Regions from separate parts of the Homo sapiens genome. Here all the other regions are reported to be linked to region 2. The links are microRNA targets in miRTarBase. Many come from high-throughput screens and were not tested one by one. Region 2 holds a microRNA gene; each other region holds the end of a gene's coding sequence.

Evidence for each region. Region 2 holds the annotated microRNA hsa-miR-29b-2-5p (CUGGUUUCACAUGGUGGCUUAG, at 2,267-2,288, shown strand). A microRNA usually pairs through its seed, bases 2 to 8, with sites in the 3' UTR of a target mRNA and lowers its output. Matches are read on the target gene's strand: a 7mer-m8 pairs with bases 2 to 8, a 7mer-A1 pairs with bases 2 to 7 and ends in A, and an 8mer does both.
Region 1: miRTarBase lists BUB3 as a target of hsa-miR-29b-2-5p. Seed matches in the 3' UTR shown: 7mer-m8 at 479-485.
Region 3: miRTarBase lists SEPTIN6 as a target of hsa-miR-29b-2-5p. The part of its 3' UTR that is shown has no 7-base or 8-base seed match.
Region 4: miRTarBase lists STX16 as a target of hsa-miR-29b-2-5p. Seed matches in the 3' UTR shown: 7mer-m8 at 1,318-1,324, 7mer-A1 at 1,441-1,447 and 7mer-A1 at 3,857-3,863.
Region 5: miRTarBase lists DCAF16 as a target of hsa-miR-29b-2-5p. Seed matches in the 3' UTR shown: 7mer-m8 at 3,009-3,015 and 7mer-A1 at 3,305-3,311.

What each region holds. Positions count from the first base shown.
Region 1 is chr10:123,163,439-123,168,533 of GRCh38, forward strand. It overlaps BUB3 (BUB3 mitotic checkpoint protein), which reads left to right. Exons shown (of 8, transcript NM_004725.4): 8 at 382-5,095. The coding sequence ends at 397. Among named protein-coding and RNA genes, the nearest start is that of BUB3, 12 kb to the left of the region's middle.
Region 2 is chr1:207,799,675-207,804,779 of GRCh38, reverse strand. MIR29B2 (microRNA 29b-2) reads left to right here and starts at 2,257; the gene lies at 2,257-2,337. MIR29B2CHG (MIR29B2 and MIR29C host gene) reads left to right here. Exons shown (of 6, transcript NR_135299.1): 6 at 2,118-3,262. MIR29C (microRNA 29c) reads left to right here and starts at 2,841; the gene lies at 2,841-2,928.
Region 3 is chrX:119,620,913-119,626,017 of GRCh38, reverse strand. SEPTIN6 (septin 6) reads left to right here. Exons shown (of 11, transcript NM_145799.4): 10 at 639-683. The coding sequence ends at 642. Among named protein-coding and RNA genes, the nearest start is that of NKRF, 17 kb to the right of the region's middle.
Region 4 is chr20:58,675,582-58,680,686 of GRCh38, forward strand. STX16 (syntaxin 16) reads left to right here. Exons shown (of 9, transcript NM_001001433.3): 9 at 606-3,945. The coding sequence ends at 710. The region is part of intron 8 of STX16-NPEPL1 (STX16-NPEPL1 readthrough (NMD candidate)); the gene reads left to right. Among named protein-coding and RNA genes, the nearest start is that of NPEPL1, 15 kb to the right of the region's middle. RefSeq lists enhancers at 246-771, 772-1,296.
Region 5 is chr4:17,798,893-17,803,984 of GRCh38, reverse strand. It overlaps DCAF16 (DDB1 and CUL4 associated factor 16), which reads left to right. Exons shown (of 3, transcript NM_017741.4): 3 at 1-3,330. The coding sequence ends at 494. Among named protein-coding and RNA genes, the nearest start is that of DCAF16, 9.3 kb to the left of the region's middle.

The DNA.
Region 1 (5,095 bases), not on the chromosome of region 2:
AATCTGATACTTCAGCATGTGTTAAACTATAAAATACCTACTCCAAGTATCTGCCCAGTTCCTTGTCCCCTCTCCCCAGGCCCTTAAAGGAAGTTCTCGATACATATTTGTAGAATAACTGAATGTTTTCAGGATTCCTGTACTTTGCTGAGTTAAAATGGATATGGTACCCTTGCTGATTGGTTGAGCCCCTAAGAGGGGGCAGAATATTAAATATTCCATATCAGATATGCTTTTACAGGTTTGACTTTAGAAAAGTCTTAGCATGTGAAGCCTGTTGGATAAAGGGCTGTGTTTGCATTTAATCTGTCACTTTTGTATCTCCTGTCCTGGCTGGCCATTTTGATCTCATGCTGTTCTTTTTTTCTTTTGAACTTGTAGGTCACCATGTACTTGACAAGATTTCATTTACTTAAGTGCCATGTTGATGATAATAAAACAATTCGTACTCCCCAATGGTGGATTTATTACTATTAAAGAAACCAGGGAAAATATTAATTTTAATATTATAACAACCTGAAAATAATGGAAAAGAGGTTTTTGAATTTTTTTTTTTAAATAAACACCTTCTTAAGTGCATGAGATGGTTTGATGGTTTGCTGCATTAAAGGTATTTGGGCAAACAAAATTGGAGGGCAAGTGACTGCAGTTTTGAGAATCAGTTTTGACCTTGATGATTTTTTGTTTCCACTGTGGAAATAAATGTTTGTAAATAAGTGTAATAAAAATCCCTTTGCATTCTTTCTGGACCTTAAATGGTAGAGGAAAAGGCTCGTGAGCCATTTGTTTCTTTTGCTGGTTATAGTTGCTAATTCTAAAGCTGCTTCAGACTGCTTCATGAGGAGGTTAATCTACAATTAAACAATATTTCCTCTTGGCCGTCCATTATTTTCTGAAGCAGATGGTTCATCATTTCCTGGGCTGTTAAACAAAGCGAGGTTAAGGTTAGACTCTTGGGAATCAGCTAGTTTTCAATCTTATTAGGGTGCAGAAGGAAAACTAATAAGAAAACCTCCTAATATCATTTTGTGACTGTAAACAATTATTTATTAGCAAACAATTGATCCCAGAAGGGCAAATTGTTTGAGTCAGTAATGAGCTGAGAAAAGACAGAGCATATCTGTGTATTTGGAAAAATAATTGTAACGTAATTGCAGTGCATTTAGACAGGCATCTATTTGGACCTGTTTCTATCTCTAAATGAATTTTTGGAAACATTAATGAGGTTTACATATTTCTCTGACATTTATATAGTTCTTATGTCCATTTCAGTTGACCAGCCGCTGGTGATTAAAGTTAAAAAGAAAAAAATTATAGTGAGAATGAGATTCATTTCAATGTAATGCACTAAAGCAGAACACGAACTTAGCTTGGCCTATTCTAGGTAGTTCCAAATAGTATTTTTGTTGTCAAACTTTAAAATTTATATTAATTTGCAAATGTATGTCTCTGAGTAGGACTTGGACCTTTCCTGAGATTTATTTTATCCGTGATGTATTTTTTTTAATTCTTTTGATACAGAGAAGGGTCTTTTTTTTTTTAAGTATTTCAGTGAAAACTTGGTGTAAGTCTGAACCCATCTTTTGAAATGTATTTTCTTCATTGCAGGTCCACCTAATCATCCTGTGAAAGTGGTTTCTCTATGGAAAGCTTTGTTTGCTTCCTACAAATACATGCTTATTCCTTAAGGGATGTGTTAGAGTTACTGTGGATTTCTCTGTTTTCTGTCTTACAAGAAACTTGTCTATGTACCTTAATACTTTGTTTAGGATGAGGAGTCTTTGTGTCCCTGTACAGTAGTCTGACGTATTTCCCCTTCTGTCCCCTAGTAAGCCCAGTTGCTGTATCTGAACAGTTTGAGCTCTTTTTGTAATATACTCTAAACCTGTTATTTCTGTGCTAATAAACGAGATGCAGAACCCTTGAATGTTGGATGTTTTTGAATGTTGGTAATTAATATAATTTACTTAAAAAGGCTTGTGTAAGGCAAAACTCGTCATCACAGGCATGTTGGGGGATGACATTTTACCTTTAAGTCCACTCTCCCTCGTTTAATTGTCTCCTCTGATGTGTGTTGGGGATTCAGTCCTGCATAAAGTGATTTGTTGGAGTTCAGCCATTTCCCTCATGCCCCCTTGTGCCCTCTCGGTGGATCAGCAGGGCCTTTGAGCCAAGTGTGCAGCTTCACTCAGGATGGGCAGAGACTATGTGGCAGCCTCTGGGGACCTTTTGGCTCAGTGCTTTACTAGTGCCAGCGCAGTAGTGCTTAGGTAGCTTGTGCATCCCCGTGTTGATGTAGTCATAGTCCACACAGAGCCAAATAACAGACCCTTCTGTACTTAGCCATCAAATACTAAATCACAGTGAAGCCCTTGGGAAGGTAAATAATGTAATAGCCAGGGACTGATGGTATTAGTTCTTTAGTGTGATTATGTGCTTCTAAAAGTCCCTAACCACTTGGTTGAGGACAGACCATAAGTTTAAAACATTGTATAAGTGAAAGAATTAATATAGTATTGTTATAGGTAACCAAATTATAGTAATGTGGACTTGTTTTTGAGGTGGTGAGGGAGGGCTTATTTTGTGGTTCCATCTGGATGTCCTCTTGTCTCTGGAAATCAAGTGTGCCTCCCTGCCATCTCTACATACCCCTTAACCAGCTCTCCACAATTTACTTGTTTATGGTTATAGCTACCTTTTCCCCAAGTTACCCAGGTGTAGTTACCTTGGCCTTCTCATTGGTTTCCCTCACCCACATTCTTTAAGTGTCTCTTCTGTTTATCTTTTCTTCCTACTGCTACCATCCCAGGGCCTTTTGGGTGAATGTGGCAGCCTCCAATTTCTGCCTTAAGTCCTCCATCTAATAGAGTAGTGACTTTTGAACCTTGTAGTTGTGACCCAAGTAAGAAATACATTTTGAACTACAGTTCAGAACACAGAGGTCAGTATATTATACATGACAGAAGGATCCTGAAATATGACTTGCCCTTCTTGCATGCGATGTATCTGGTGCATGTGTGCATTTTTTTCTTTGCTTTTTAAGAAATCCTGGCTATGTCACCTTGAATTGATTTTACAACAAATGCCTGTCACCTGTAATTTGCAAAAACTGCTTGATCAGATTCTAAAAAATTTCTAAAAGATTTTTAAAAAATGTATTCTGATGTCATACTTGGAATCCTCCACTGCTTCCTGTTGCTCATAGTCACCCTTCAGTGATTTCATAAGGAGGTGTGCTGCTTCCCAAGCTTCTAGATCATCAGGAAGGGGCCGCGGACTGTAAGGTGCTCTCAGAAGATGGGACTAACCTTTGTTGGGAATATAAATAAGTGGATGGGATGGGAAGTGACAGCAATATCTGGTTCTGAGTTCTGTTGTGTAAAAACTTAAAGGTATATTAGCAGGTTAGCCTTTGTTCTGTGGGAGATCCAGGCCTTGTTAGAAGGACCAAGGCCAGAATGCCCAGTTTAGCCTTAGCATTCAAACCCTTCATTGTTTTTCCTCCATTATCTGTTAAACTCCTGCTTTGCCAAAGGTATCTTCTATACCCTAATAACACTAGCTTCCTTCCCTCAGTGGGGACTCAACGCACATTAGCCTACTGAGAGCTTAGATCACTACAACGAATCCTTGTAAATTTGTTTAACTCAGTTTTCCCCAAATTCATTTAAGCCGGTTCTACTTTTTCTGGTCTTGTTCCCACAATCATTTTACCTTTTACCACTCCCCCAGAAAACACTGGGGTTCTTCTCTTACGCTGAGAGCCAGGTTACTTTCTTCACTATCACTCCGACGCTTGTGTTGATTCCCAAATCTCAGTCTGCCCAGGGTCATTCTCTTTCTGAATTGCTCTTTCAGGATTTAATTTGAATCCTGCAAAGTCCTGTTCAAGGCCCCCTTTTCCATGAAGCCCTTCTTCCTTGTTGCAGCTCACAAATAAGTGTGCCCTTTCTCAAAACACGTATGAAACACCTCCTGCTTGTATACCTTTAGCAGTAGTTCCTCATATTGCCTGGCATTTAAACATTTTTGTATGCGTACATCTTGCTTTCCTACTTAAAGCAAGAGCAGGACCACATCTTTTTGTATGCTCTGGCACATGACTGTTGGACCACTTTGATATTGCTGAATTATATAGACTCCTTTTAAAATAATTTGAAATATAATTTTGGAGTATAGACATCTTGTCCAGTGCACTAGACAGGTGACCTTTGGCTTTGTTCATTAAGCATTTAGTGTCTTAGAAGTGATATGTTTACTGCAGAAAAATTTGGATAGCATGCAAAAAATGAAACATACTATCACAATCCTATGATATAACTTAAAAATTTCTTTATAGCTTCATGGAGGTATTTGATGAAAATTGTATATATTTAAGGTATATAATGTTTTGATACATGTATACATTGTGAAATGATTACCACAAGGAGGTTACTAAACATCTCCATCACCTTGTTAAATTGAGTTAAACAAATTTACAAGTTGACAAATTACATTTACAAATTTATGTAATTTTTTACGCTTTTTTTTTTTCTCCTTTTTCTGGAGAACGGGGTCTCGCTATACTGCCCAGGCAGGTCTCGAACTCCTGGGCTCAAGCTATCCTCCCGCCTCTTGCCTCCCTAAGAGCTGGGATTATAGGCGTGAGCCACCCCACCCGGCCTATGTCATTTTTTTATGTGGTGAGAATAAATAATCTCAGCAAATTTCAAGTATACAATTCATTATTACTAAGATAGCCACCACACTGTATGTCAGGGCTCCAGAACTTACTCATCTCATAGGAGGCAGCTACTTTTAACATTCTTGGTGTATATCCATCCTTCAGGATTTTCTGTATATTTCTCTAACAGCAAAAGTTTTTGTTAGCTACATCATGTGAAATGCCTGGGTAGACAAATTTAAAGATGTTATTTGGGATGGTGTGACTTGCACAAGCCACACAGCCTGCATGGTGTCCACTTTGAGGGGGATGCCCATAGCTATACTTAGAAGTCATCCTCTAGAGCAAGCTTGTCCAATTTGTTGTCCATGGGCCACATGCTGCCCAGGATGGCTTTGAAGGTGGCCCAAAACAAATTCATAAACTTTTGTA
Region 2 (5,105 bases):
GGGCTGAGACCTGAAGGACCCCTTTTATCCAGTGGAATTGGAAAGGCAAAGGATTTCAATACTAACATGATTTTTTTCTCCACTTCTTTTAGAGTGTTTAATTAAAGTGATGCATTGTTAATGGCTTCTTATCTCTTCTTCCAGAGAGTAAAGAGTTAAATTTTAGAATCCAGGAGTGGGGACCCAGACTGTGGCTTCTGTTAACTCCCTCAGTGGCAGTGGCGTCCTGCTATGCACAGCCCCTCTGCTGTACTCCGAATGGTCCCTTACGGGTAGCAGGAGAGACATTAAATAATCACACTGATGACCAAGTGAGATAAGTGGTTTTTGAAGGAAAGAACTTGAGGCTGGCGAGGACCACTTAACCTTCTAGCAAGGGCTGGACTCAGGGAGGCTTTCCTGAGCTGCGGGGAGGATGACAGGTTCCCTGGAGTGGTGGTGGGTGGGGGCGGGGCTGAGGGGTGGTAGCCAAGGGAGGGTGAAGGAGAGTATTCCAGAAGAGACAACAGCTTAGGCAGGCAGGACCTCGCCATGGAGGAAGGTGCTTTCTGATCACTGCGGGACACCTGTGTGATAGCTCATAGGGAGGGGGTACTGGTAACTAAAAGTTGATAAGGAAGAGTGGCTAAAATGAAAAGCAGAAAAGTGAGAATCTCATCAAATCCCCTCATTTGACAGGATTTGGACTCCCAGTAGTAACTGTCCTTAAACACTCACTCCTGACCTTACAACCCTGGCTGTTACCTGGTTAACAAGCCCCAGGTGTTGGCTACAGGTGTCATCACTGAGAGCCCTTGTGTGCAGATCTGCCCCAGCTCTCCCACCTGTGACTGAGGCTAGCAAGTCCCCCGTGGGCTGTAGAGCCTAGCGCTGGTGTCAGAATCGCTTGTTGCAGGTTCATCTTCAGTGTCTTTCCCACAGCCACATGCTGGGGAAAGACGGCAAAGGCGCTAGAGGAGCAGGAGAACAAAGCAAGCTGCCCCAGACCACCCGGCTTTCGCAGAACCCAGATGATGCTCCTGTCTCCCCCTAAGTATAACGTGTTATGTAGTCAGTATGATCCCATTCAGTGCAGAAGTATCGCCTAGGAATTTCCTGCCCCACCCACCCTGTTTTGTTCTTAATGAAGTTCAAGAACAAAATGAGATGATAGTCAAGTTATGGAGCAGGCTGCAGTGGATACAAGGGCAGAAACACAGTCTTTGGAGTTAGACCTGGGATCTGCATTGATTGGTTGTGTGACTGCAGACAAGTTATTTAGCCTCATTAAGGATGAATTTCTTCGCAAAAATTGGAATAATACCTGCCCCATACGACTGTTGTGAGAATTAAACACCGCAACTTTTGATGTTCAAATTCTATTTCTTCTCCTTCTAGCAACACATACTGTTAGTGCCAGGAACCATAAAAATTATAAGGCTGTATCTAGAGGCCTGAAAGGAAGCTAAAATATACAGTGTCTACTCTGTCTCTTTTCTCTTGGTTATGGTATCAGAGGAAATACACATATTTTCTTAGCTTCAAACCACCAAAAAAGATGATGCAGTAAGGAGATGGGAAATCTAATTTGGAATACAGTGTGCAAATCTTATTTTCAAGCAGACTTTGAAAATAAAACTCAATTCTTACGTTAGAGGATTATCTGCTTAATACAATTATAGGGTACCAGTTTTTGAAGTCACATCGGGGTTAAATAAGATTGCAGGTTCATGGGGTCATATTTGAATGTTCTGATACTTACATATGGGGTGGGAAGGAGGAATGCATGCTTTTCTCAAGTTAAGACACATAAAAGAGTTGTCCTGGCCCAGGTGAGACTCGCCTTTGTGTAGCAGCTGGAGCTTCATTCCACAGGCAGATAGGGTGCTTGTGTCCTGATGAAGTAAGAGAATATATCTGGAAACACTTTGTGTACTGTGAAATACTATACAAATGCAGGGCAGTACAAATGTAAATATTAATGTATTTTAGTAATAATTTTAGCTTTTATTTCATCATATATAATAATTTGTAGTGACTGGTGTGAAGTTAAATAGAATTAACCTAGAATTAATGAGTTTTGTATTGCTCTCATCTATTTGAAGCATCAGCTGTGCCTTTCATGTTGCCTTGTGCAGCCCTGTGTAACCTCCTCTGTGCCTTTCCCATGGAGCACTGTGTCATATCACAAGTAGAACTACAAGAAGATATTTCTCCTCAGGGCAGAGGCTGGGTCTTCCGATTGAATCTCCCTTCTTTCTTCATTGAGATCCTCTTCTTCTGGAAGCTGGTTTCACATGGTGGCTTAGATTTTTCCATCTTTGTATCTAGCACCATTTGAAATCAGTGTTTTAGGAGTAAGAATTGCAGCACAGCCAAGGGTGGACTGCAGAGGAACTGCTGCTCATGGAACTGGCTCCTCTCCTCTTGCCACTTGAGTCTGTTCGAGAAGTCCAGGGAAGAACTTGAAGAGCAAAATACACTCTTGAGTTTGTTGGGTTTTGGGAGAGGTGACAGTAGAGAAGGGGGTTGTGTTTAAAATAAACACAGTGGCTTGAGCAGGGGCAGAGGTTGTGATGCTATTTCTGTTGACTCCTAGCAGCCATCACCAGCATGAATGTGTTCGTAGGGCCTTTGAGTGTGGCGATTGTCATATTCTGTTGGATAACAATGTATTGGGTGTCGATTGTCATGGGGCAGGGGAGAGGGCAGTACACCTGGAGGACCATTTTGTCCACATCGACACCATCAGTCTGCTCTTAGAGGATGCCCTGGAGTATTCGGCGTTGATTGCGGGGCACCCGAAATCAGACTTGCCACCTGGACTGTCGAGGTGCAGACCCTGGGAGCACCACTGGCCCATCTCTTACACAGGCTGACCGATTTCTCCTGGTGTTCAGAGTCTGTTTTTGTCTAGCACCATTTGAAATCGGTTATGATGTAGGGGGAAAAGCAGCAGCCTCGAAGCCTCATGCCAACTCTGGGCAGCAGCAGCCTGTGGTTTCCTGGAAGATGGATGGGCAGAGAATAGGGAAGGAAGATCATGCTTTTCCCTACTAACTTCTGTAACTGCATGTATGATACATTATTGCAGAGGTAAGAGATAGTTTAATGGATTTTTAAAAACAAATTACTATAATTTATCTGATGTTCTCTAGTTGCATTTTGCTGAAATGTAGTGCTGTTCTAAATTCTGTAAATTGATTGCTGTTGAATTATCTTTCTGTTGAGAAGAGTCTATTCATGCATCCTGACCTTAATAAATACTATGTTCAGTTTATCATGTCTGTGTTTTTCATCTATTATTTCCCATTCATAATTCTGTGATGATAAGAAGTGGGTCCTGAAAAATTAATTGGCTGTGCAGATCTTGCCTACTTCATAAAGAATTTGAAGTAGGTTACAGCCAGCCAGACATTAAAAATGAAGCCCATTAAGAGAAGAATGAAATTCTATGAGCCAAGAAATAAAATGAGAGAAAAGATTAGGGAAGAGAAGAAATGTTGAAGATCAAGGCTGAGGGATGCTCCCTACTGAATGGGAAAACTCCTTAGTTCCACATGGGCTGTAGACACAGCCCTTCTGCCAGCAACTGTTCCTGCAAGGAACTGGTGCTCAACTAAACATACTGTCACATGGTTCCTTGAAGGGGCACAGCACTGATTTCACTTGCATTATAAAAGATTGAGTGGTGCTTTTGACTATTAGTTTATGTCAACACTTCAAAACAAGATGAGCCAGTTTTTTTTTGTTTTTTTTTTTTGTTTGTTTGTTTGTTTTAGACGGAGTCTCACCCTGTCACCCAGGCTGGAGTGCAATGGCACTGTCCCCGCTCACTGCAACCTCCGCCTCCCGGGTTCAAGCAATTCTGCCTCAGCCTTCCGAGTAGCTGGGATTACAGGCGTGGCACCTCCACGCCCAGCTAATTTCTGTATTTTGTAGTAGAGACGGGGTTTCATCATGTTGGCCAGGCTTGTCTCGAACTGCTGACCCCGTGATCCACCCACCTCAGCCTCCCAAAGTGCTGGGATTACAGGCGTGAACCACCTCGCCTGGCCCAGTGAGCCAGTTTTGTAAAGCTATTCAGAGATTAGCCAGATTTGATTTGATAGGGGATCAAGCTTGTAGGATCTTCAGGAAGGCGGGCTGTGGCCCCTTGATCAGGCTTTTTGCACAGGAGGTGCATGACTATGAACTACCCTCAGTAGAACTCTTTTAAGCCAGTGGCTTGCAATAAATGATGGCAAATCAGCCACCTAGGAAGCCATTTCTAAGCCCAACCCCCTGCCACAGTCTTCCTCTAGATGGCTGCCCTGCCCAGTGGGCTGAGAGTGGGGGGCGGAAGTAGCATTTGCTGGGAAGACTTGCCAGTACATATGTTGCACCCCCTCACTGCAGCTGCAGTGCTATTTCAGGCTGTTGATGGAAGAACCCATGTTCTAATCCCCAGGATGTGGTGGGAAGACCCTAAGTGGTGGTGTTAGTTAAGACCCTAAGTTATATTGTTTTGTTCACTTCCCACTGAGATAGGCTACAATAGTATTAAATACCTATAGGTCAGACATTTTTGGGGTCTGTTGTACTACCTACCAATTAAACAGTTTTTGATCCGCCCACCACGCTCAAAGCTCCAGCCTAGGTGTTGCAAATACAGACGACAGATTTTTGCTCTCAGGAGGCCCTGATTCCAGTCCTCAAACGAGTAAGTGTGAAATTGAGTGCAGCATTAAAGCACAAAAACAATGATTTGAGACGTCTTTTCTATAAAAGAAGTTTATAGCACTCTCATTGAATGCTTAAATAGTGCCACACTGCTAAGTCGTGAGAAGCAAAATGTAACTGCGGTGCCTCAAACAGGATTATTTTGTTTTATTCATTTGGATGCGGACAGCTCTTTATCTAAAATTGCCATTCTGAGGTGGTTTTGCACAATAAATTGGTAATTATGTAGACTGTTTCTTCCAGAGACAGCATCTTGAATCGGGTTTATGAAGCCATGCTATCAACCTAGGTAGAAAATGCTTTGTAGGACATGGGTCCTGCTTATCTAAATTTTACCAGATTTTATTAGCTGTAAATTTATAAGCGGGTCTTGGTGAATAGATAATGAAAAAAATATTGAGTGG
Region 3 (5,105 bases), not on the chromosome of region 2:
AAGAGCCACCGTTAGACCTGTGCTACCCTCCTCCCATAGTCACGGTAGTGAGTTTTGAGGGCAGAAATGGTGGTAGTAGTATTTCTTCTTGAGAGATGGTGGTTGGATCTAAGAGTCACATATTCAGAATTTCCTTTAGCTGCCCCTAAAGAGATTAAGAAAGTACTGGCCAGCCGTGGTGGCTCATGCTTGTAATCCCAATACTTTGGGAGGCCAAGGCGAAGGATTGCTTGAGTCCAGGAGTTTGAGATCAGCCTGGGCAACATAGTGAGACCTTTGTCTCTACAAAAAAAATAAATAAATAAACATTAGCTGGGCCTGGTGGCACTTGCCTATAATCCCAGCTACTCAGGAGACTGAGGTGGGAGAACTGCTTGAACCCGGGAGGTTGAGGCTGCAGTGAGCCATGATTGCGCCACTGCACTCCAGTCTGGGCAACAGAGAGAGACCCTGACTCAAAAAAAAAAAAAAAAGAGTATCAGTGTTTCAGGGGTTCCTACCAGTCCACCCTTCCCACTTCCCCTTCCTGCTACTCCTAATCACCTTTGACCTCTAACCCTTCATTGTTTGTGTCAAGTCATAATATTTGATTTCCCCTCATGCTCACTCCATCTTCATCAGCTCTTACTGTTTTACAGTTAACTCTGCTGTTTGCTGCATGCTGCATGAGACCCAGGGTCCTGGTAAGCTTGATTAACTCTAAATAGAACTGGCAGTGGCTTCTAGAACATATCTCCCCCAATCCCGCACCCCCAACACAAGCATCTAATCGTAGAAGAAGCTGCTTCATTGGTCTAGCTGGTTTTCTCTCGTGACTTATAATATGCAGAAATAGTCTGGTGTGGTTTCAGGTGTACATGTGGAATGCCTGCCTGCCTGCCTGATTAAAGTGAGGGGTCGTTTTCAGACTTTTGCTGCTAGAACAGCTGGGTAACACAGGTGGATCCTGTGATCAGTATTTGAGGTTTCAGTGTGGGAAGTTTTTTTCTTAAAGAGCCATAATCGGGCCGGACGCAGTGGCTCACAGACCTGTAATCCCAGCACTTTGGTAGGCCGAGGAGGGCAGATCACCTGAGGTCAGAAGATTGAGACCATCCTGGCTAACACGGTGAAGCTCCATCTCTACTAAAAATACAAAAAATTAGCCGGACATGGTGGCACAGGCCTGTAATCCCAGCTACTCTGGAGGCTGACACAGGAGAATCGCTTGAACCTGGGAGGCGGAGGTTGCAGTGAGCCGAGATTGCACCATTGTACTCTAGCCTGGGCAACAAGAGCGAAACTCCATCTCAAAAACAAAAGGAGCTATAACCATTATTTTCAAAATTAATGAAACCGTGGTGATGAGAGAAACTGGGTTTCACAAGCTCCGTCCTGCAATGTCACAGTCAGCATCAACCCTCTCCCATCCCCCTGCATCAGGTTTGAGAATGTCCAGAGTCAATGGAAACTCACTTCTCTGTTTCCCGCTGGTGGCAGTTTCATATCTGAGGGGTTCAAGTCCTCAAATTTCCTTTGACTGTACCCCTCAAAACCATAATAAGGCTGAGAGCAGTGGCTCACGCCTGTAATCTTAGCACTTTGGGAGGCCGAGGCGGGCGGATCACCTGAGGTCGGGAGTTCGAGACCAGCCTGACCAACATGGAGAAATCCTGTCTCTACTAAAAATACAAAATTAGCCGGGCGTGGTGGTGCATGCCTGTAATCCCAGCTACTCGGGAGGCTGAGGCAGGAGAATTGCTTGAACCTGGGAGGCGGAGGTTGCAGTGAGCCGAGATCGCACCTTTGCACTCCAGCCTGGGCAATAAGAGCGAAACTCCGTCTCAAAAAAACAAACAAACAAACAAACAAAAAAAAAAACAAAAAAAAAAAACCCATAATAAAAGCGGAGGAAAATGAAGAGATCTTAGAAATTATAGAGAATTCCTTACATTTAATCCTACAAGTACTGGCTTCATGAAAACCTCTTATAAGGAGATCAGCAGGTAAGGATTCCTGAGTGCTAGATGTTGTGTTAATAGAAGTTTATAAAGTTTCACATAGTTTATAGGGAGACTGAAAGCAGGGATTAAGGACCTTCTATCTCCTCTACTAGACTCAGGTAGTGGATGGAAAGGAAATACAAACATTTTTAATTTAACATAATTAGGGTTTTTTTTGTTTGTTTGTTTCTTTTTTTGAGACGGAGTCTCACTCTGTCACCGAGGCTGGAGTGCAGTGGCACAACCTCAGCTCCCTGCAACCTCCGCCTCCTGGGTTCAAGCAATTCTCATGCCTCAGCCTCCCAAGTAGCTGGGATTATAGGCATGTGCCACCATTCCTGGCTAATTTTTGTATTTTTAGCAGAGACCGGGTTTCACCACGTTGGCCCAGGCTGGTCTCAAACTCCTGACCTCAGGTGATCTGCCTACCTTGGCCTCCCAAAGTGCTGAGATTACAGGCGTGAGCCACCGCGCCCGATGAAGGGTTATTATTATTTTTTTTAAACTTTACCGTGGAAACTTTCAAACATGAGCAAAATAAGAGGATAATACAGTTCAGCCCCCAGGCAACCATAAACATATGCCTAATCTTGTTTCATCAATTACTACAGACCTGCTGAATTATTATAAAGCAAAACTATATCATTTTATCTGTAAATACTTTAGTATATATTTCCAAGAGATAATGATTCTTTAAAAAAACATAACCACAACCCCACCATTATCACACCTACAAAATGAACAATAATTCATTAACATGAAATGTCTAGTCAGTGTTTGAAACATCCCGGTTGTCTCATAAATGCCCTTTTACATTTGGTTTGTTTGGATCAGGGAATATAAAATATAGAGAAGACTTTTCCCCACTCACCCATGTAGTTTATGATTTAAATGGAGAGCCTGCTGTTAGTCACCAAACTGATTGCCGCAGCTATTGCACTGGGGACTCGGGGCAGCTGGCAAAACATCCTGCTTGGAAGCAAATCCTGAAGAGGAAGTCCATAGAGGTTTCTGCAACATAAGGCCCATGAAACCGGGCCAAAGGAAACAATCTTAAAAGAACAGTGACTTGATTTACTGTCTGGCTTAACAGCAAGTCTTGGAGCCCCTGCTAGTTGACTGGAATTAAACAGCAGATTTCCATTTAGGAAGACAGTCAGTTCCTAGAATGCCTGTCCATTCTTTGCACTGTATGTAGTTCCAGTGCGTAGTGAAGTGTCTGACATGTAATAGGAACTCAGTTCATGTGTTATGTTCTTTGTTCTCCCATTTTTAATGAGGTGAGCAGGAAATATGTATTCTAGTTAATGAGATTTCAGTTAATTCAGGTTTCACTGCACGTGGCTTGACACAGTTGCTTACAGGTTTCCCCAAGTAAATCATTGTTAGTGGCCATTCCTAAAATGAATTCTGGCAAAACTATAATTAAAGCTACACTTTACAAGTGAGAGGCAATTGGTAAACAGCTGGAACAGCCAACCCCAACCCCAAGTAGGTTGGCTCTTCCTGGCAGGATTCTCCCTGGCAGACCACGAAAGCAATTTCAGACCAACGAGTCAGGGGAGGCTTTGGCTCCCCAGGATCTGAAAGCAGCAAAGGCAACCCGCCCCCTCCTCAAAGCCCTCATTCAAGGGGTGGATCACGAAGGCCACCTAGAATGCAGGCAGAGTGAGGCTTACTGTGCCTCCACATTTTGAAATTGCTTGAGGCACTACTTATAGCTCTCTGCATTTGTAAAAGCGATTCCTTTGTGACCCCCTACATCGTTGCAGATACTCTACCTCAATCATTATTGGTCCTTAGGAGTGCACAGTATATGGATAGTATACACACATCAAAATACGTCAGCCTTCCCATGAAACCTAGAACATAGGCCATTGCAGTGTTTTTTAGATTACTCTTCCCCTAGGAAGTAGACAAAGAATAAAAATAAGATATGAGCATTTGTATAGCTTTTATTACTTTCCAAAGTGTTTTTTTTTGTTGTTGTTGTTTTGTTTTTGTTTTTGTCTTTTGTATAGTATCTCATTTTATACTTACAACAGGTCTGTGAGGTAGAGAAGGAATAATCCCCAGTTTGCAAGATGAGTAAATGGAAGCTGGGCGAGGTGGCTCACTTATGTAATCCTAGCACTTTGGGAGGCTGAGGTGGGAGGATCACTTGAGCCCAGGAGTTGGAGACCAGCCTGGGCAGCATGGTGAAACCCTATCTCTCTATTTTTTTTTTTTTTTTTTAAGAGAGTTGGCTGGGCATGATGGCTCACGCCTGTAATCCCAGCACTTTGGAAGGCCGAGGCAGGAGGATCACCCGAGGTCAGGAGTTCAATACCAGCCTGGCCAACATGGTGAAACCCTGTCTCTACTAAAAATACAAAAATTAGCTGGGCATGGTGGCGGGTGCCTATAATCCCAGCTACTTGGGAGGCTGAGGCAGGAGAATTGCTTGAACCCCAGAGGCGGCGGTTGCAGTGAGCCAAGATCGCACCATTGCACTCCAGCCTGGGTGACAGAGCAAGACTCCATCTCAAAAGAAATAAAAATACACACACACACACACACACACACACACACACACACACACACACACACCAGCTCTGGGCCCAGCTGTGACTCTTTGCAGCCACAGGCAAGTCTGTTGACTTCTCTGTGTTTCTTGGTCTACTCATATGAAATGGGGATCAGTTCTACTTGCTGTATTTATGTCACAGGAATGAAATTTACATGGAAGAGAGGTCAAAGTATTATTTAAGCACAAACCAATGATGGGTTTCCATAGTTCACATTTTCAGGTAACTGTGGTCTGGACCCTAGAACAGAGTTCTGCAATCATCCCCATATGCTCTGCAAACAGGTCTTGCCCCAGAGTACCAGTTAGCTGACTAGGACAGCTCTAAGGATCTCCTGGGGTGAAACCTCAGCCTCCTCTACTTTCCCAATGGGACAGGAAATGCAGTGGCTAGAGCCTGGGGCTCTATCCAGTGGCCTGAGGCCACTTAGAGATTTGTGGAAGGTATTCCTGTACAAGGTATTGGGTGGTGGTGCTGGGGGTGGGTGGTGGTGCTGGGGGTGGGTGGTGGGGGACACTAGTCAGGACCTAGTCATTAAGAAGAGATAGGCCGGGCT
Region 4 (5,105 bases), not on the chromosome of region 2:
CTGTATCGTTAGCGGCACTGGGAGGACGCGCCTCAGAGGGATCTTTCTGCATATGACATCCATGGGGCACACGTGTCTGTTTTTATTTCAAAGGATGAGTTTTTGTTTCCAAATTTAGGGGAGGTCGAAATGGGGCCTCTTCCGGGTGTCTGTTGCCTACCTGCCAGGTACGGTCCTCCAGCCCGTTGTTTCCTTCCGCGGTGAAGGAACTGTGCATTCGCTCCAGGAACACGGACCGGGAACAGGCGACCCGTGCTGCAGGGGCACTTGCCACGGCCTGCAGGAGGAAAAGCCGGGAGAAGCAGGCCCAGCTGCACCCGGAAGCATGAGCTTTCACTTCCCTGTCAGGCTTTGTCTTAGTAGTAGGTTTCCAACAAATCCATTTCCACGTCCAGGGTAAATAAGCAGCACCAGGATCATGGGGCTCTTCCACTCCTGGTGATTGAATTCCGTGGGATTGATTGGAGGGATTACAATCATGTAGCCTGTAGCAGAGACCTCAGTCACTGTGCAGAGAGATCTGGAAGCCTCATTCTGGAAACGAGTGGGACTTGATTTGGGATTTTGGGGAAAATGACGGCCTTTTTTCCCTCCTCTTTTTGTAGGCAGAACAGTATCAAAAGAAGAATCGGAAGATGCTTGTGATTTTAATATTATTTGTCATCATCATTGTGCTCATTGTTGTCCTCGTTGGCGTGAAGTCTCGATAAGTGGCATTGGGTTTTCGTGTGTGCCGCGCGTGTGGATCTCCCGGGTGTGAGGGGCTTGGCCTGCGCCCCGCCAGCTGCCCGCAGAGGTGCAGCCTCGAGGAATCTGAGGGCGTCGGGGCAGCGAACCTTTGCATCCACGGACTCCTCCTTCCCTAGTCCTGCTCAAGCGGTCCGGGGAATGGGTTTTTGTTTTTCCTTCATTGTTGAGAATTTAAGGACCTTTGATACTGCTGCACAATAGAGATTGAGTTCTGGGATCAGTTATAATATATATTTTTTTTAGAAAGAGAAAATGAGCTGAGAGTTTACAGGCACTGCAGAAGCTGTTCAGTATTATATGTGTATATGCTATTTTTTTAGCAGCCATGTCTGAGCAGAATGTTAACATAATTTTTGGAAAAATTTTCTTTAAACCATCTGGTTTTTAAGAAATTTGGTACCAAAAATTGATGAGTAGAGGCAAAAATGCCCCTTCATCTTTCTCTATATATTTTCCAGTTGAAAACAAACTAAGAAGTCCTTTAAGAATTTATAATCCGTTCCCCATTAACTTAATTTAGCTTTTCCATCACTGTTAATGATCAGAGTAACAAAGTGTGAAAAATAAGAAACCATCATTGATGTTAATTAACACATTTAGATGGGCCAGTTAAAACAGCTTCATAAGTTTTAAATTAATTGTAAATGGAATATTCCTCATTTAAAATTTTTGCACTGCATTTTCTACTGTAAACCAAAAGAGGTTACTAAGCAAAACCACCTAAATTTAAGTTGGTGATTTAAATGAATCTCACATTAAAAGAAAGCTTGACAGTGTTATGAAAGCCACCAGACTCAGCCAGTGTGTCCCCATGGGTATCCCCAGCCATCCTTGCTCAATCCATTACTTATATACTAACTACATAATGACCTGTTCAAACCAGACTCTATTTAATGAACTGTGAATTTACACAGAGGCCATTTTAAATGGGTCACCCCATTTAGGATTAGTGGATCTCAAATTATTAACCAAACATCACTCCATTTCAAAGTAAAATATTCCACCAGCGATTTGATTTATTGGCTCTTCCATTGCCACTGAGCAATGCCCAGGAAGCAGGCACATTGCCAAGGACTGGGGGCATCTTGACTAGGAAGCTCCTCGTTTGTGTGAGCGTGGGTCAGACCGCCAAAGTAGGACTTCATCGTTTACCTACCTATTATCAATATGGTGCTTGAATATATTCCTATAACTGTAGAACAGTGTGGAAAGTGATGGTAACTTTGAAGTTGTTCATGTTTTATTGGCTTTGTTTTAATTGACACTAGTAGAGTTTTAATGGTCTTTGTGTAAATTTTAATGGCTTTTCCATTGTTTTTGCTTCTCTTAAAAAGTTTAAGAAGAATATGACCTCATTAAATGTGCTGTTTTATTTGGACCAGTCACACAAAATGTCTCTCTAGAGTTGACTTTAAAGTTGTTTACAGAAATTTAAACTCAATTCCAGAGATTGAAGTTGTCCAAACAGCTCATGGGCTTAGTGTCCAAACCCCTGCCCAGCCTTCCCTTTCCAAGTTGGTGCCACCTCCAGGTAGCCATTGGTGGTTTTCCTATTACTGATGTGGCTGTGGAATGATAAGGTCCTAGAGGGGCCCTGGCATTTCAGGAAGCGGACCTGGTATTCCCTGACAAACATTGCTTAGGAAAGAGGGCCGGAGAATAAGAAGCCAGCACCTCATCAGTCAGCCCTGCAATGTGAGACTTCCGTAGCTGTTGAGAGTCACTGCAGGTGTTCTTTCATCCCATCTGATTTTAACCCATGGTTGAGACGTTCCAAGTTAGATCTGCTGCTCTTAGGTGTGGGGCTGTCCACATTAGGGAACTTGCCTCAAAAACAGTCCACAGTGGCAATACCGGACTTCTGTTCAAGCTTTTTAAAGTGCTGAGCCTTACAAACCCCTGAAGGAAAGTGACCCTTTAAGAGAGGATCATCTTTTTTTATATTTATTTTCACCAAATAGGGTGATGAGGGTTGGTTTTTGTTCCCTCAACCCATTTGGGTAAAATAACGGATCTGATTAGAAACTGTTTTAAGGAGGGGCTGGGCTCGGTGGCTCACGCCTGTAATCCCAGACTTTGAGAGGCCAAGGCGGTCACGAGGTCAGGAGTTCGAGACCAGCCTAGCCAACATGGTGAAACCCCGTCTCTACAAAAAATACAAAAATTAGCCGGGTGGGACACGCCTGTAATCCCAGCTACTCAAGAGGCTGAGGCAGGAGAATAGCTTGAACCCGGGAGGCAGAGGTTGCAGTGAGCCGAGATCACACCACTGCACTCCAGCCTGGGTGACAGAGCGAGGCTCCGTCTCAAAAAAAAAAAAAAAAAATTGTTTTAGCGCTGGGTTTCCCAAGGTGGGAGAGACAGACCCAGCCTGGAGCTGGCCCCTGGCCTGTGTGCTGACTTCTTGGGGTCCTCAAACCACTGTATTTTTCTGTTGAGCCTGTACTTGGGGAGAGATCAGTAGCATTTGAGGAAGTAAGAGAAAAGAATCATGGTACCTCAGGGTTTCTTTCCCTTTACTCGCTGGCAGCCATTGTCTGTGGGCACCTCATGTTTTTCCACACTCTACTGGGCCGTGGAGGTAACGATCACCCAGGCCAGTCTCCTCTGCCTGGGATGCGCCCTCTGAGAGGAGGCCTAGCAGGGCAGGCTCCCTCTGGGCATCCCTGGATGCAGCCTCTGGACACATGCCTCCTTTAAAGTGTCCGGGTGCAGCTCAGGTTGAGTGGAGGTAGAAGGAGAAACAGACATGTTTACCACGCGTTTTCCAAAGCTCCTGATCTTTCCCAAGATTGTAACTGAAAACTGCTGTCTCTTGTTTTGTTCGTTTTGGGGGTGGTGGTGCTGGCTGGGCCATGCTTGTGAAGTGATGTGTGTCTCTGATTTAACGGATTCACTGTTTTCTCTGCTAATTGAGAGAGCGTTATTTACATTATTTATTTGTTTTGACACAAGTGCTTTCAGTGTTTTATCCTAGCTAATGGCTTCTTAAAGGTAATAAAACCCTTCCAACGTAATTGGTCAGATAAAACTTTTTTTCTTGTATGCTTAAATAAAGCAATTAGTGAAGCACTTCTATCCAAAATGACTTTTTTGTCCTTTTTTAAAACCAATTTACTGTTACTGGAAACTTTTTGTACAATAAAGCAATCACGCAGATTAAAGAACATCCTGCAATCCTAGTATTAATTTTAACAATGGGTTCATGTTTTCTTCCAGTGCATTTGTGTTAGGGGAGGGCTTGGCCAGTTTTGTGATCCTCTGGGCCCCTGACTCTGTTTTGTGCCTGAGGCCTTTGCCTCAGTGTCCGAAAGTAGATCTATCTAATGGATGCTTTCAAAGGGACAATCTATTTACTATCTGATATACAAAAAGAACAACTGCCTAAAAGGCAGATAAGTATTTTTCTTATGAAAATATATGCTTTATATACATACCAAGAAACATTTGGAAATCTCCAAATAAAACTGTGATGTGCCTTGTTGAGAAGCAATTCTTACACACAGGCTGTAAGAGACTTGACTTTCTAAATGATTTTGTTTCCTACTCTGTTACACCAAAAACTTGAGAGACAAGTGTCTGCCAGTTTAACTCAAAGCCAAGACTATGTTTCCCCTTGATTGTGCCTGTCCTGGGGTCCTCCGAGGAGGACCTTTGTCCTGAAACTTGACTTTGATGCATTTGTTTTGCTGGTGGGAGATGTGGACCTGAGTGATGGTAGGGGTATGTGGTTTCATCACCAGAACCTATACAAACAAAAAATAGCAGCTGTCATGCCAGGTCTCTTTGGCACCCTTGGCGTTTGGTCCTGAGGTGTTGCGGCGACTCAACAGCAGAACCCTTCAGAGCCTGTCAACAAACCACACAAAAGAAACAACCTCCTCCTCTTGCACTCTCACCGTGTTTTTTGTTAAGAAATTACATTTCCCCAACTCGCATGTTGGCCACTGGCTCTGTCCAAGAATCAAATCCACTCTCGAGGGAGAGACGTTTGCCATAGGGTTCAAGAATATTCTGACCGGCAATGCTATTTAATAACATTGAAGAAATCCTCCATCCCGAAGGGGACCACATAAAGGCGGCAACACCTCTTTGGTGACCTCTTGGGTTATGTTCTCAGCTGAGTCTTTGGTGGCCCAGTCTTGAACCAGCACTACAAGAGTATGCAGACGCAGTCTGCAGAAGCATTGCTGTCAGTGGAGAGCTGCAGGATGCCACCAATGACTTGGAGGCATGACTTGCCAAGAGGCCTGGAAGTGGGGAGCCACTGGGGTGTCCCTTTGAATGCTCACTTTGACAGCAGGTAAACAGGCTGGATATGGATTTCCTCTGTGAAATTTAGCAACCATCCTATA
Region 5 (5,092 bases), not on the chromosome of region 2:
CCTGGCAGGTTAAGTGCCTTTTAAAATATTCCACAACTTGGAAACCTTTAAATCCTAATTCCTGGTTGTATCATGCTAAACTGTTGGATCCAAGCACACCAGTCCATATACTTCGAGAGATAGGTCTAAGACTCTCCCATTGTTCCCATTGTGTCCCCAAACTGGAACCAATTCCTGAATGGCCCCCTCTGGCCTCTTGTGGAGTCCCACCTTTTCAAAAGCCTCTTACAAGTCCCAGCCGGCTCTCTAGAGATCATGCCACTCTAAATGGAGCACTGCAATTTGCCACCAAACAGCTAAGCCGAACATTGAGTAGAGCCACTCCCATACCTGAATACCTAAAACAGATCCCTAATTCATGTGTTTCTGGGTGTTGCTGTGGCTGGCTGACTAAAACAGTTAAGGAAACAACTCGTACTGAACCCATCAACACTACTTATTCTTACACTGACTTCCAAAAGGCAGTTAACAAACTCCTAACTGCATCACTGTAAAGATCTACCATTTGCTCTGATATCTCTGATGTTGCTAATTGAGAAAGTGGTACAAAGTTAGTCATTACACAGCCCACTAATGCCTTCTCAGTCAAACTCTCTTATGCCCTGGCAAGCCAATGAGGATACCCTTTGACAAACCCTGTGGATAAAATGATAATATCAAGGTCAGGCATGGTGGCTCACACCTGTAATCCCAGCACTTTGGGAGGCTGAGGCGGGTGGATCTGCTGAAGTCAGAAGTTTGAGACCAGCCTTGCCAACACAGTGAAACCCTGTCTCTACTAAAAATAAAAAAATTAGCCGGGCGCAGCAGTGCACGCCTGTAATCCCTGCTACTCGGGAGGCTGAAACAGGAGAATCACTTGAACCCAGGAGACGGAGGTTGCGGTGAGTTGAGATTATGCCACTGTACTCCAGCCTGGGTGACAGAGCGAGACTCAGTCTCAAAAAAAAAAAAGGAGAATTAGTTAAGGGGACCATATTACAAAAGATAGTTGAATATTCTTCACACTCACTTCTCACCCTCCCCACCCCAATTTACTCTGCCTTTCTGAATGGCTTTAATGAGATACCTGATTATTAATGAAGAAAAGTAGACCACCACCCCTTTTGTTATCCAGACTTTAGAACAGCCATTGTTGAAAGCAAGAAGTTAGCTACCCACAATAATACCTTTCTGAGCATACTCTTCTCTAACATACATTTCTGTGGAAGTAGTTGAATTAAATTGAGTAACTACACAAAGGAAAATGGCAGGGCTATGAATTTCTTTCCCAGCTTTTATATAGATGTGCCTACATATGACACTCTTTAGGGTTCCTTTTATTTTTTCTTTTTTTTTTTTTTTGAGGTAGTTGAATTAAACTGGGTAACTACACAAAGGAAAATGGCAGGGATATGAATTTCTTTCCCAGCTTTTATATAGATGTGCCTGCATATGACACTCTTTAGAGTTCCTTTCACTTTTTCTTTTTTTTGGAAGGGGGCGGGGAGGCAGGAGGAGTGCAGTTTTAAGCCTAGCCTATACTACTACAAACTTATTATGGTACTTAAAATTACAGCATGAACGTTCTATATCGGAGTCTCCCACCAGGCTGTCTCTGACTAAATCAGCCTATAAGATCATCCCTTGGGATTAAACAAACACCTGTTCTGTAGGGAATGTGTTTCCTGAATCTTGGTACTCAGACTTTTGTCAAGAGTAAATAACATTTCAAAAGATGAATGGAAAAATGATTAAGAGAGCATTTCTGCTTTCAGCATTAACTGCTAATGGATTAAAATTTTAATCTGTATAGCATTTCCTGGAGTAAAAGCTCAAGTACTTTCCACATCCATTGCAAACTTTTCAGGAACCCTTCTAATTTTTTTTTTTTTTTTTTTTTTGAGACGGAGTCTTGCTCTGTCGCCCAGGCTGGAGTGTAGTGGCATGATCTCAGCTCACTGCAAGCTCTGCCTCCCGGGTTCGTGCCATTCTCCTGCCCTGCCTCCCGAATAGCTGGGACTACAGGCGTCCACCACCACTCCTGGCTATTTTTTTGTATTTTTAGTAGAGACAGGGTTTCACCGTGTTAGCCAGGATGGTCTTGATCTCCTGACCTCGTGATCCACCTGCCTCGGCCTCCCAAAGTGCTGGGATTGAACCCTTCTAATTTTAAAGAACCTTGTTATTAGAAAATCTCAGCCTAATACAATCTGAAGTTAAGAGTTTTAGCAGCATTGTTTTTCTAAGTAGATTTAGCTATAGATTTTCTTCTGGCCAAACAAGGAAGAGTATATGCCCTTGTAAATGAGTCTTGTTTTGTTTATTTAAATAGTCAGTCAAAACGTAGAAATCAGTATACGTAAAATAAAATGCATGAGACTATTAAATCTTTTCATATACTCTACAAATAAAATGAAATCTGTGTGTGGTCCTGGTTGACTGGGCATCTAAAGGGAATCAGAAAAGAGATTGTGAAAAGTTATATATATATCCTCTTCCTTATTTTAGTTTTGCTTTTTCCTATTTTCCATAATTAAGTGCCGTTTACAAAGTGGCATCAAAAAATTGAAGCAGGCCAGGCATGGTGGCTCATGCCTGTAATCCCAACAGTTTGGGAGGCTGAGGGCAGGTGGATCACTTGAGATCAGGAGTTCGTGACCAGCCTGGCCAACATGGTGAAAGCCCATCTCTACTAAAAATATAAAAATTAGCCGGGCGTGGTGGCATGTGCCTGTAATCGCAGCTACTTGGGAGGCTAAGACAGGAGAATTGCTTGAACCTGGGAGGTGGAGGTTGCAATGAGCTGAGATCGCGCCACTGCACTCCAGCCTGGGCAACAGTGAGACACCGTCTCAAAAAAAAAAAAGGTTAGGAATCACAAATTGTGTAAATATATAGCAACTTTAAGAAGAGAGAAGAATGCTTATAACCTAGTGAATATTTCTGCTGAGCCTTAGTTGTCTTGTCTAAAGGAAAAAAGAGGGAATTGTAGAATAAAAGTATTTGTTAGTGGAAATTATTGACCTGAAACCATATCATATTGTTAGTGTAACTGAATGTATCAGAAATTGTTCCTATGTAGGTATTCTGTGAAACTGGTTTCTAAAATGTTACAGGAAACTGTTTCCTTTTTTTTTGTTTGTTTGTTTAAGTGGAGGTGGGAGGAGGTAGGGAAGAGGTCTGAATATTAAAATATGTTTATGTTCATGTGTTCATAATACGTTCCTTTTTCTCTCTGTGTGTGTATAAAAGTGCCTTGCTCATGAATGCATTTTTGCTATTCACTTCGAAAGGAAGCCTTTCCCCAGCTTGGCAGCTGAATAAACCAATAGCTTTGTACATGCTGAACAGAGTATGGTCATTTGTCCTCAACAAATGAAATAGATCCTACTTTGCTTAAGGCATATTCTACATTCACTAAGTACTGAATAGAGTTAATAGATACAGTACCTGAATCTATATAGTATGTCTGACAGGAGATGACTTGGCGTCTCTAGAGAAGAAACACACTTGAAGAAGAAAATGTCTGATATTCAGTCAAGATTCAAAGTGAGCTTATTTGTTTATGTATTTTAAGTAATTCCAGGTTGCACAAAATAACAGGTACCTAAATAAGCCTTAAGTTAACTTTTTGTGTGGCATAAACACTGGGTTTGGGAATGAATTTACTACCTTTGCACTCCCTATGTTGGCTTCTGTTAAATGCAGTCACCATAATTAAGATAAAAAGATTATTTTATCCTCTATTTATAGAAATATTTATCAAAGGAGTAAGGAAACTATTTCTAAACCAGTGGACATTAACTGTCTTTTACTTTCTCAGTGCAGATAGGCAACTTTTTTTTTTTTTTTTTTTTTGAGATGGAGTTTCGCTCTTGTTGCCCAGGCTGGAGTGCAATGGCGCAATCTCGGCTCACTGCAACCTCCACCTCCCGGGTTCAAGCAATTCTGCCTCAGCCTCCCGAGTAGCTGGAATTACAGGCATGTGCCACCACGCCCAGCTAATTTTGTATTTTTAGTAGAGATGGGGTTTCTCAATTGGTCAGGCTGGTCTCTAACTCCTGACTTCAGGTGATCCACCCACCTCAGCCTCCCAAAGTGCTGGGATTACAGGCATGAGCCACCGTGCCCAGCCATAGGCAACATTTTTATTAAAACAGTCCAGATACCTTGAGCCTCAAAGACCATAATCACGTCTTTTAATCCCATCTGCTTCCTAAGAAAAGAAAAAAATCCATACATGCATGGCAGGAGGGCATATGATAGGTCCCCTCTAGGGGATAGAAGCCCTTCCTGCTGGGTCTTCTATCACACCTGTCCATATTTTAAAAAAAAAGTCTCTGATGAAAATGTTTTGATAGTGTAAATAGCTAAAGCATTTAAAGACTTTAGAAGTCACTTGGGTTATTTTCTGATGCGTAAGTTGGCTTGCATCTGGCTTTCTACTTTTGGCTCCAGTGTTAGAGAATATGTCTTTTGGAGCAGCCTGTTAGTTTTAAATATCTCTTGTTAGAAATTTAGCCATTCATCCAATATTGCTATGGAGAAGTGCCTACTCTAGTGCAGACACTGGGAATGCAAAACTAAATAAGATTACTACACATAGGAAATTAGTTTTAAAATATATGAACCTATATGTTACCCCAAGCCATTTCTGCTGTCTAGGGTCATATTAAATAAACCTAAACCCTAATCCATATGTTGGCCCTTCACATATTGAAAATAGCTTATAGTGGAGAATCATATAAAAGAATTGAATGGAGCAGCCATCCAAGTATAATGAAGATTCATCTGGAGGGCAGACTTCAATTAAACCCCCACAACGGATACTCAGCCAAGGAAATGGAGAAAATATATAGATATTTTGTATCCAGATTTAAATTATATCTGCTAATCACAAGGTAGTGGCACAAAGATCAGGGCCAAAAGTGTTTTGCTCAGGTAGCTAGGACATATAGAACAGCCTGAGAAGTATGGATAACTTCTCAGACTTCATGAGTTAACTGTGCAAGCTGGTAACGTATCTGTCCGCCAGTGATACCCATTGGACTGAGGGAGTTACATTAGCTGGACCAACCACCAGTACTTCTATGTCAACTTGCTGTTGCTA